Regions from separate parts of the Homo sapiens genome. Here region 2 is linked to region 1. Evidence: fine-mapped expression QTL. A gene starts in region 1. The other region holds a variant in brackets. All regions are shown on one strand. Distances are between the middles of the regions.

The links.
Region 2: its variant is fine-mapped to the expression of GPR135 in thyroid (GTEx, PIP 0.95).

The regions. Positions count from the first base shown.
Region 1 is chr14:59,462,470-59,467,849 of GRCh38, forward strand. GPR135 (G protein-coupled receptor 135) reads right to left here and starts at 2,911. Exons shown (of 1, transcript NM_022571.6): 1 at 1-2,911. The coding sequence starts at 2,757. The coding sequence ends at 1,273. It also overlaps a transcript of L3HYPDH not described here. RefSeq lists a silencer at 2,442-2,981.
Region 2 is chr14:59,439,464-59,444,843 of GRCh38, forward strand. No RefSeq gene overlaps it. Among named protein-coding and RNA genes, the nearest start is that of GPR135, 23 kb to the right of the region's middle. The variant G/T (reference allele first, on the strand shown) is at 2,646.

The DNA of each region.
Region 1 (5,380 bases):
CTTCTCCAACTTTATGCCTGTGTTTTAATACCGTTACATATAGTCCCACACCTATTCTCCCTTTAATAAATACATTATCTTCGACAAGTCATAGCTATAAAGCAACCATCAGCTATTTTAAAAAATACAAAATATACCAAATTTCTAAATGTAGGAGGGTATGATCTATTTGGAAAAGTCTACGCTAATTCCAAGAGGCTGCTTCTCAAAATAGTTTTAGAATTTCTCTTTGGAATCGTTTTCAGTTAGCTAAAAGCCACGTAGGAAACCCAACCTTGTTGTTTTATAGAGGTCTCATTTTAAAAAATAATAAAAATTTAAATAAAGTGGCATCACTCACCTTATTCAATCAACTTGACTTCAAATTACATTTTTGGCTATATCCAAAAATCAAATTTACCTCAAAAGACAAAAATTTTCTACAATGAAAATATTTTTTTAAATGTGAAAGCATTCTGAGAGCAGCATTCCAAAATTTATCAGAAATAAAAGTAACAGGTTAGAGTAAGGATAAAACTTCAAAGTTTTCCAAGGAAGATCATTTTGGAGGTATGACGCGGGTGGAAGGAATGTTAATTTTTACATATAATCTTGGAAAACATTTAAAAGACACATTTCTTTATGTTCATACTTCTATTTGTCCTTCAGATGGTTGAATTTTATCTAATAATAACCAGCTTTTCAAAATCCTAAAATGATTTTAAATGGGTTATGAATTAAAAATTTTCCACAAAGGTTATTAGGGGGTGGGGTGAGGAGGTGCACCAATGTGTGTAAGGATAAGACTTTTCCACTTGCAATCTAAGCACCCAAAGCATGTCAGAGGTGCAAGCTCTAGAAGCTAAAGTTTTGTTGGATGGTAGCGATTTAGAGGGGCTTTCAAGCAGCTCTGAAGGTCTCCATTCATTCCTGAAATTCTGTGTAGTTGAACAATACTGGTTGCATTCAATGTTTTGTTTGTTTCACAGTGTGGTCCTATAATATGAGCTTTTCAGTTATAGTGAATGTTATTTTTGTCATTTTTGGCACTTACAGTTCACAATGCTTGGTTATGTGGTTTAAGATTGTTTTAATTTTTGCATTTTACATTCCTTTTGGCACTTTTGAAGAAGGGACATTGTCTTTTATGTTGTTTGGGGAAAGTGGTAAGCCTCCCCCGTCTCTAGCTTTAAATGTTTGGCTTTATGAAATCCACAACTCTCCCCCAGAATCTTCCATCATTAAATAATGCGAGTGGAAATTTGCCTTCATAAGCTGGCCATTCCAACCGTCTTAGAGGCTGGTATCCCCAGCTTCGGATTTAGGCTGTTTGGTCACTGCCGTCACCGGCTCTGGTGGTCCCTCTCGGCAGAAAAGTACAACTGGATTTTTGCGGGCCCACATGGCCACGTCCCCTGCCACTCCGCTGGCCGGGTTGGAAGAGGACATCCTGTTGCAGGCCCCCAGCCGGTTGGCATAGCGGTTTCGAAGGCGACTGCGGCTTCTGGCTTGCAGACCCGGGCCCTGGCTGGGCAGGAAAGCGTCCACATTCCTAGTCCGGTAGCCCTCCTCGCGGTTGCGCCCTAGGAGCATCGAAATGTTGGGATTGCGGATGGCGTAGATGACAGGGTTGATGGCCCCATTGGCCCAGGTCAGCCAGACGGCCACCACGCTGAGGAGCGAGGGGGCCTGCATGGTCTGGGCCTGCCGGGCGGCGGCCAGCAGCACCAGGAAGCAGTAGGGCCCCCAGCAGCAGATGACGAAGACGATCATGATGAGGACGGTGGTGGCCGTGCGCACCTCGCTGAAGAAGCGCAGCACGCGCGCGTAGGTGTTCACCGGCCGCACGCGCACGTCCGACAGGCGCACCGTCTTGCAGATGTGGTAGTGGCAGAAGCACATGAGCAGGAAGGGCAGCAGGTAGCAGGCCACCACCAGCCCCACGCTGAAGGCCGCGCCCAGCTGCGCGGGGTCCGGGGAGGTCCGGTAGAGGCAGCCGTGGAAGCTCTGCGCCGCCGCGAGTTCCCGGGGCGCCCCGAGCAGCTCCCAGGGCAAGGAGAAGCCCAGGGCCGTCAGCCAGGCGCCCGCCAGCAGCTGCAGCGCGCGGCGGCGGCCGATCTTCTCCCGCGGCGGCCGCACGATAGCGCAGTAACGGTCCAACGAGATGAGCGCCACGCTGAGCGTGGACACGATGCCGAAGCACGAGCTGAAGAAGCGGCTGGCGGCGCAGAAGCCGCGCCAGGGCCCCGCGGCGGCGGCAGGCGCCGAACCCCCGGGCGGAGTGAAGAGGTCCAGGAAGGCGGCGGGCAGGCAGAGCAGCGCCGTGAGCAGATCCGATAGGGACAGCGACAGGATGAAGGCGTTGGTGACGGTGCGGAGCTGCCGGTGCTTCACAATCACCCCCATCACCGCGCAGTTGCCAAGGCTAGACAGCAGGAAGATGAGCAGGAGGACGAGCGCCTGGGCCGCCACTGCAGCTCCGTGCGACAGCAGCGGCGCCGCCTCCGGGCCTAGCGGCCGCCTCACCGCCGCCCCCGCCTCCCGCGCTGCCCCGGACCCGCCAAGGCCGCCGCCACCGGGAGCGGCAGCTGTGCCGCCTCCGCTTGCGTCGCTCAGGTTCCCCAGCGCCGCGGTCGCCACGGTGCTGAAGGAGAGCACGGCCGCCGTGGCCGCGGAGGAAGTCCCGCCAGGTGGGCCGGCCGCGGAGGGGGCGCCGGAGTGCTGGCTGCCCAGTAAGGCCATGCTCGCTGGTGGGCGGGGCGGCTGCGGCTCCTCCATGGGGCCCAGTGGCGGCCGCGGATCTCCTCATCCCGCACCGGGGGCGGCGGCCGCTAGGTCGGAGTGGTGGCTCGGGGCCGGGGGCTAGCGGCCGCCGCGGGGAGCTGGGCTCGGCCGGAGGGGTGGCGGTCGCTGGGGACCTGGCGGAGCCTTTGACGTGGGTTCCAGCGTTGCCGAGGGAACCGCGTGTTTACGCAGGAGCGCGGGGCGGGACGGCAGCCCAGTACCCGCTGCAAAGCCGACCCGCGACACCGCCACTCCGGAGGTTACCGGCCCGGGTGTTCGGGTTTCCGAGAGTGCCAGGTCGACCTCCTGAGGGACCAATGTCCGGCCAGATAAAGTGCCGACTGGCATGCAAACAAATGACCAGATTCAACGAAAGTTCACTCTTGCTCTCTTTTGTAGGGTACAAATGTTCTACAGGCAGGCCTTTTGGGGAGTGGTGGGGGGGGCACTCTGCTTCCTGTGGGTGCTTTTGGTATATACAGGTAGGAAAGGAATCTAGAAAGTGAAGTGAAAGAAAAATCCAGAAGTCTACATCCAGACATCTTAAACTTGAGAAGCAGACTAATTTAAACCAGTAATTCTCAAACTTGAGCTAACAGAATTCACATAGAGGGCGTGTTAAAATACAAGTGACGAGGTCTGAACCCCAGCGTTTCGAATATGTCTGGGGAAGTACCCAAGAATTTGTATCTCTAACGGGTTCGCGGGTGGTGATGATGATGCTGGTCCCAGGACCACACTTACAGAAGCACTGATGTCAAGAGTTTCATAAAATGCAGATTCCCAGGCTGACAGAATTACTAAGGATGGGCCCATGACTCTAAACCCCGTAGGTGATTCTGATACAGGTGCTCTGAGGAGCTAGGATAGTTCCTTTAGATGTTACTTCATTTCCAAGGGCCTGGACCTCAGGCCCCTACTGGCTGATAAATGGGGGGAGAGGGATTGGTGCCTTGCCCTGCTAGCAGCCTTCATCTGTTCTCAGGAATGGGGTATGTTTTGAGTCTAAGGTGCTGCCAGCCTGGCAATCACCACAGATGCAGCTCCAGGTACCTGGCTGGGAGATACGGGGAAAAGAAAGGCAGGGCTACCCAGGGAAGTTGCATCTCAAGTTTCTGGGCATGGCCTCTAATGGGGAAAAGTGTGATAAACCCTCAGGTTAACTAACCCTGGGCTCTTCGCTAAAGCAGTGGTTCACAGAGTATGGACATTGGACCAGCAGCATCAACATCCCCTGGAAACCTTGAGAAATACAAATTATCAGGCCTACAGTGCATAGGATACCCCTGATCTACTGAAACTCCTGTGGTGGGGCCCAGGCACCTATGTTTTAACAAGCCCTCCCAGTGATTCTGATGCACAAATTTGAGAAACACTGCTCTAAAGAATGACTAGTATATTTGTAGATCTTAGAATCAATGGTATTAGTATTGGAGTGCTTATTTCATTCAGAAAAAATATCCTACAGGAAATTTACAGTATAAATAGAAGAACGTTTAAGGTGGCAAACCAAAACTGGGTTTGTCAGCCTAAGCGTCATGGACTTTTGGGCCAGATAATTCTTTATTGCAGGGGCCATCTATACATTGTATGATGTTCAGCAGCATCCCTAGTTCCTACCTACGAGATGCCAGTAGCACCTCTCCCAGCTGTGACAACTAAAACTGTCTTCAGATATTGCCAAATATCCTCTTGGGAGCAGTCAATGCCAGCTTAATCTAGACTGATTTTGTCTTAATTTTGTCAATCAAAGCAAAAATATAATTATCATACATTAATTTATTTGGCAAACACAATCTTCTCAGATTGTGCTTAGTTTTAGGAAACAACATATAAGATAGGAAACCCAGCCCAAATAAGCTTAAGCCACCGGCCAACACAGTATATTACAGTGTGCTAAATATTGTCTTAAAAATATGTGAGTGAAATTATTTGTCTTCCTGACAAAGACTTTGTACAAGAGGTGACATTAGACTTTTTAAAAAAAGAAGAAAGGGAAAGAACATTTGATGAATGTGCAAAGTCTGGAGGTTAGTGTTGAAGTGAGCAGTGTCTGAATTCTAGGATATTGGAGATGGGGAGTGAAGAAGGAAATAAATGATCAAAGTTTATTGGGGCTACCTTATGATGGGCCTTGTAGGCCATGCTCTGGAGACTGAACTTCATCAGGGGAGGAGGGGCTAATAGCATAAGGGAGGGCCGTGAGCAAGTGCATGGTTCAGAAGGACCAGAAGGACTGCACTCTTCTGCTTCCTTCCTTCCTCATCTTTCTCAGTGTCCTCTCCTCTGCCAGTTCATCCTCTTCCACCTGCCTTTACATGCTGGAGTTCATCAAAGCCCTGTTCTCAGCTCCTCTGGACTCCCCCCTCGGCCCCATCTCACTCACATCCAGGACTTCAAAGATAATCTATATATTCATTACTCAAATTATGTCTGTGGCCCCAACCTACATGTCCTGCTACTTGGCATCTCTCTCCTTGATGTGCCAGTGGCACATCAAATGGGTGCATGATCTTCTTCCTACTTCCCCGGTAAAACTTGGTCTTCAATACTCTGTATCTCAGAATATGGTAGAACCATCCTTCTAGCTTTTAAGCCAAAAACTTAAGAGTTTTCC
Region 2 (5,380 bases), 23 kb before region 1:
ATTTACAGCTAATTGCCAAATATTATTCCGTTGCTAAATCTTTACATTTGCTTTACTAAGGTTTGCTAAATTAGTTAAAATAAACTCAAGCATAGCATATTTCCAGAATATTTTTGATAAAAGATGTCACAAACATACATTTCCTACATATTTTAAAAATATTTAATAGGAAACTATCTTATGTCATATTTCCCAGGAAAAAGATAGAGAAACAGATTTGTGTATGGGAAGTTTATTGTGCAATGGTCTCAAGATAAAAACTGTGAGACGTTAAGGAACCAGGGTTGAGCAAAAAGAGTCGAATTGTGATGTAATTGCAAAAAAACATCTCAGCTAATCCCACTGGAGCTTGGAAGCTACGCTGGCCTTTCTGAGTTGTTCCAAATTAAGGCAAGGGGGCCTGATTTGTATATCACCACACTGACCAGTCATTGGATGTGGGCTGCACCTGGGGAGTGGTCATAATGCTGGGTGAAGAAATTCCTTTCACCTGAGGGCAATTCTTGGTGAGGGATTTGCTCTGAGCCATCAACAGGTAATAATTCTGACAGCTGGGGAAATGAATGCCTTGGTCCTGAAGCAGGTATCTGAGCAAGACACCACATTATCCATTCAGTGCACCCTTTGAACTGCTCAGATCCATTTGCTTTGTATAAAACAGTCACACCACCTGCTTCCTTTTGGTTGGTCTCTTTTCCAGTGAAATTTACAAAAGGAAAGTTGGTGGAATGAAGTATAATCCCCACTGCTGCACCTGATTGCAGAGTTGCAACTAATATTCAATTTTTGAATTCTCATTACTTTTGGCTGGTACCTCCACTAGACCGGGTGGCTTGCCCATAGGGGTGACCCAGGCCCTCATTACTGTGCCATCGAAGCCCTGCTCACTATGCCCTCCTTAGGGCCAATGATCTGCACTGTTCCTTCACTGTCAACTTTAGACAGGCGAACACTAAGAGATGCCCCAGTATATCACATGGAGCAAACCTATTCTCTCCTTCCCCATTGTGGAACAGCAGTCCTGCCTCCCACAGAACCTGGGGTTGTTTGAAATGCAGTCCCAAAGCATAGCTAGGTTCTCACATCTGTGGAAGCCAGCACTTAACAGTCCACACTTCAACCTCTTGCTCTGTGTCTCACAGCACGACTATTGATGTTTCAATGTGCACTAAATAAACTGACATTTCTTTCCAACTGTATCCTCTACATCTTTTCCACATCATGTCAACAACCAGAATACCAATACAATATTTTAGAAAGGTTGAGAAGTTCTCCAAAAGCAGAGAATATGTTCAGGAGGAATGTCCTCTCCCCTTTTTGCATGTGAGCTATACTATTTGAGGACAAAATTAGTGAAAGGAGTAGCTTAACTTTTAATGGATCAGGAGGGGAACTTCATTCCATGCTAATGACATACCACTTTCCCCATAATTAGGGAGGATGTTTATTCAGCCAGGATGCTGAAAAATACATTTTAAGATATAGAAGCAGCATCTGTGTTCATACCATATTGGTTGTTGAATATTTTGACTATTATACCTGCAGTTTGATAAATTGAAGGTAAGTTGTAAGTACATAAAGTTGATTAGCCTTTTCGGCACCAAAGGCAAAAAAAAAAAGAAAAAAATCTGGAAACTACTTAGAAATTATTTGACAGCATTGACCTCAAGTTCACCTCTGTTATGGACTTAAGCGCTTTGATACACAAGAGTATTTTATTTGTTTTAGAAGAGGCTGTCAGGTTATCCATTTCATGTTAAATCCAATATTCTTTGTTTAATTTCTGATTATTTTTGTTTGCATTTATCCCAAATATTGATTTAGAATAAAATCCACTCTTGACCCTGACTTTTCTCCACTACCTATTTTTCAGGAAAATTTTTGCAAATAGGCTGATTGAGTAGACTATATAGAAATGAACAAACATCTTTTTATCAGCTCTTTAAAAAATGTGTAGACACGCAGTAATACAAAAACATTGCTCCAATTAAGAAAGCAAAAGTACAAATATGCTTACATTGAAAAACATTTTTTGAGACAATGGTATATTTTAATAGTCTAGAGTGGCTCATTTATATTACTTGGGTTTATGAGTAGAATGAGAGGCATTGTTATGGAGGATGAGAGGAATAATGTAAAAATAAAGTGAACTAAGAGTGTATTTGCAACCTAATTTACTTTATTTAAAAAATTTTGTGACTCGCCCAATCTATGTGCTTCATAAGACAACTATCTGTTTCACTGCTTTCAACCGGGGTCTAAGAGCCTGGCACATAATAGATGCTCGATAACTGTGTGTCAAACGAATAAATGCACAAAGTGTTCATTGCTCACCTAATATGCCACAATAGCAAACAACTTCTCTCTCTCCTTCTTCCTTTCTTTTGTAAATTTTCTTTATCTTCTTCTCTCCCTCCTTAGCCCCCTCTTCTTCCTTCCCTCTCCTTATCTCTCTTTAGTCTCCTCTCTGTTCTTCCCTCCCTTCTGTTCTCCTTTCAAAGTAGATCACAGAAAGATGTTTAGGAGACATTCATTAGAGAATGTTCAGTAGCACAAAGACAGCAGAAAATGTATACAGTATCACATTTTCCATCCTTTCTTTTCTTTTTTAACTAAATCTTGAAATTCTGAAGTTATGTGACTTT[G/T]TATGTTTTAAAGGGGTGTTGTCGTGTTGCATGGGTGTCTTGTGTAACTAAAACAAACTCTCCACCCTGCCCTTGTCTTATTGTGCAGTTTCTTTCTTTTCATTTTTATTTTATTTACTTATTTTTTTGAGGCAGGGTCTCATCTCACTCTATTGCCCAGGCTGGAGTACAGTGGCATGATCTCGGCTCACTGCAGTCTCACCCTCCCTGGGCTCAAGCAATCCTCCCATCTCAGCCTCCTGAGTAGCTGGGACTACAGGCACACAACACCACACCCAACTTTTTTTTTTTTTTTTTCCATAGAGATGGGGTTTCACCATGTTGCCCAGGCTGGTCTTGAACTCCTGGACTCAAGCCATCTACTCACCTTGGCCTCCCGAAGTGCTGGGATTATGAGCATGTACCACCACACCCATCCCACAGTTTCTAAGAGAATCTGACCTTTTTCAGTTTCCAGAGACAGTCTTTGTGATTAATGATCTATCTGTGTTAGTCTAAGACTCCAAGACCAATCTCCCATTTCCAAAGACAGAACTGGGAGAAACTTCCCTTTCCTCTAAAGAGGTGATTCTGTATGTAAGCTAAGAGTAATCAAAGCAAGTTAGAATGCAATCTCCTTATATCCTTGTGAGAAGGATGGGAGAGGCTCCCCACACATGAAGGTAAACAAGAGGTTGCAGATTTTCACCATCGTTGACAGGGTGGGTGGTGTGCTGGCAGAGGGGAAGCAGTAGAGTTATTCAGGCTGAATGGACATCACTAAGGGAACCAGGTTCTTTCAGGTGCACAGGGGAAATCAGCAAGTTTCAGTGAATTCATGACAACTTGCCTCAGGCTGCTATGAAAGATGGCCACAAGGTCTCCTCTATTAGTGAGGCTAGCTAGGTGCAATCCTGACCTTTATTAAGAGTAACCAGACATTCGGGAGCTGGTTGCCTAAGTGCCCAGTAATCAGTTAAAAAGATGTCACAGAAAGGCAATTTCACTCTTACATTTCAAATATAATATTGATGCTAAGATTCAAACTGACTGGAAAAACAGAGATTCATCCAGCCGCAGAGGGCCTGATAGGGATAAAGGAGGCATGCTAAGGGATATAAATTACTACTTCTGTGAACTCCCAGAAAAGATTCTACCCTTGTTAATTTCATCCTGCCTCCTCCTCACTCTCAGATCCCCAAACCTCCACCCTTGTCTGCCTCTCTTCCCATCCATCCCTGCTGTGGGTTCTAATCCCAATCCTGCTGTTGTTTAGCTGGCTATATTATCTTGAACAAGTTATTTTTCTTTGAGTCTCAGCTTCTTCATCTATGCAATGGGGAATAGTAATATCCGGCCCATTGATATGAAATAATATGAGCAAAGGACTTCATGGAGGCAATCAATAAATGCTAGATACATCCCAAATCCCACTCTCTAAAGAATAGTCTTAGAAAACTAAAACTTTCAAATCACAAGCCTAACTCTATTTTCCAAATGTAAGAAATTTGCCTTATTTCTCAGTTGCCCTGATGCATTCCATCCATCATATAAAATAAATAATTTAAATGAAAAGTTAATTGAACGCTTAGAGCACTAAAAGTCATTCTAAGTTCTTCTTTCAGAGAATTAAAGATGCAAAAGGAAAAACTAATTTCAACATTATGCATTCAAAGAAATCTAAATTGTAACAAATTATTTATGTATATATTTAGTCTCTATTTCCTGTTCAAATACTTCAAATACATTTATAACCATTTGGAACTGTTATTACCAATATTTTAAGATGTTACACGATCCAATAGGAAATATTAACTGTTTTATTGTTAAAGAGTCATATTAAAATAATGCCATGACATATGTGTTATCAATTAGGCAATGAGCTACCAGTCAATATGTTTTGCCTTATAAAGAATTTTAGCCAAGATAAAGCTTGTTTGTTTGACTTAGAAAGCCAAAGTTGAACCTGTGTGATAACTCTTTGATCACATGTAATAACTGAAGCATAAGAAAATTGGTTTTTAGTATAATCACCAATCGTCCTCCCTTCCTCCCACTGAGAAAAAAATTCGGCCTTGTTTAAATACTCAGCTTAATTAAATTATGTATTTAATATATGATACATTTGTCTTGGCTTTGCATAGCACAAAAATGATAGATTAAATTTTTATGTGATAATTAAAGCCAAACTGTTATCAATAAGAATGTTAAAGCATTTAAAGATTATGAAAGTTTAATGTGTTCTGATGTGTTGCTTTTCAAAATCGTTGGGGCATTCCCGCTTTGAAAATTGTTGTACTTGATAATGGAGCCTCCTTGTGGGGAATCAGCAGTATTTCAGGCTTTCAAATTGCAGGTGAACTGCTGTTTGAATTTTCCCCCTTCACAACGGGAATAGATGTACTGTAGTAGTGCTATCAAGAAAATATGTACTTGTCGCCGGGTGCCGTGGCTCACGCCTGTAATCCCAGAACTTTGGGAGGCCGAGGCGGGTGGATCACGAGGTCAGAAGATCGGGACCATCCTGGCTAACACAATGAAACCCCATCTCTACTAAAAATACAAAAAATTAGCCGGGCGTGGTGGCGGGCGCCTGTAGTCCCAGCTACTGGGGGGGCTGAGGCAGGAGAATGGCGTGAACCCGGGAGATGGAGCTTGCAGTGAGCTGAGATTGTGCCACTGCACTCCAGCCTGGGCGACAGAGTGAGACTCCGTCTCTAAATAAATAAATAAATACTAAAAAAAAAAAAAAAAAA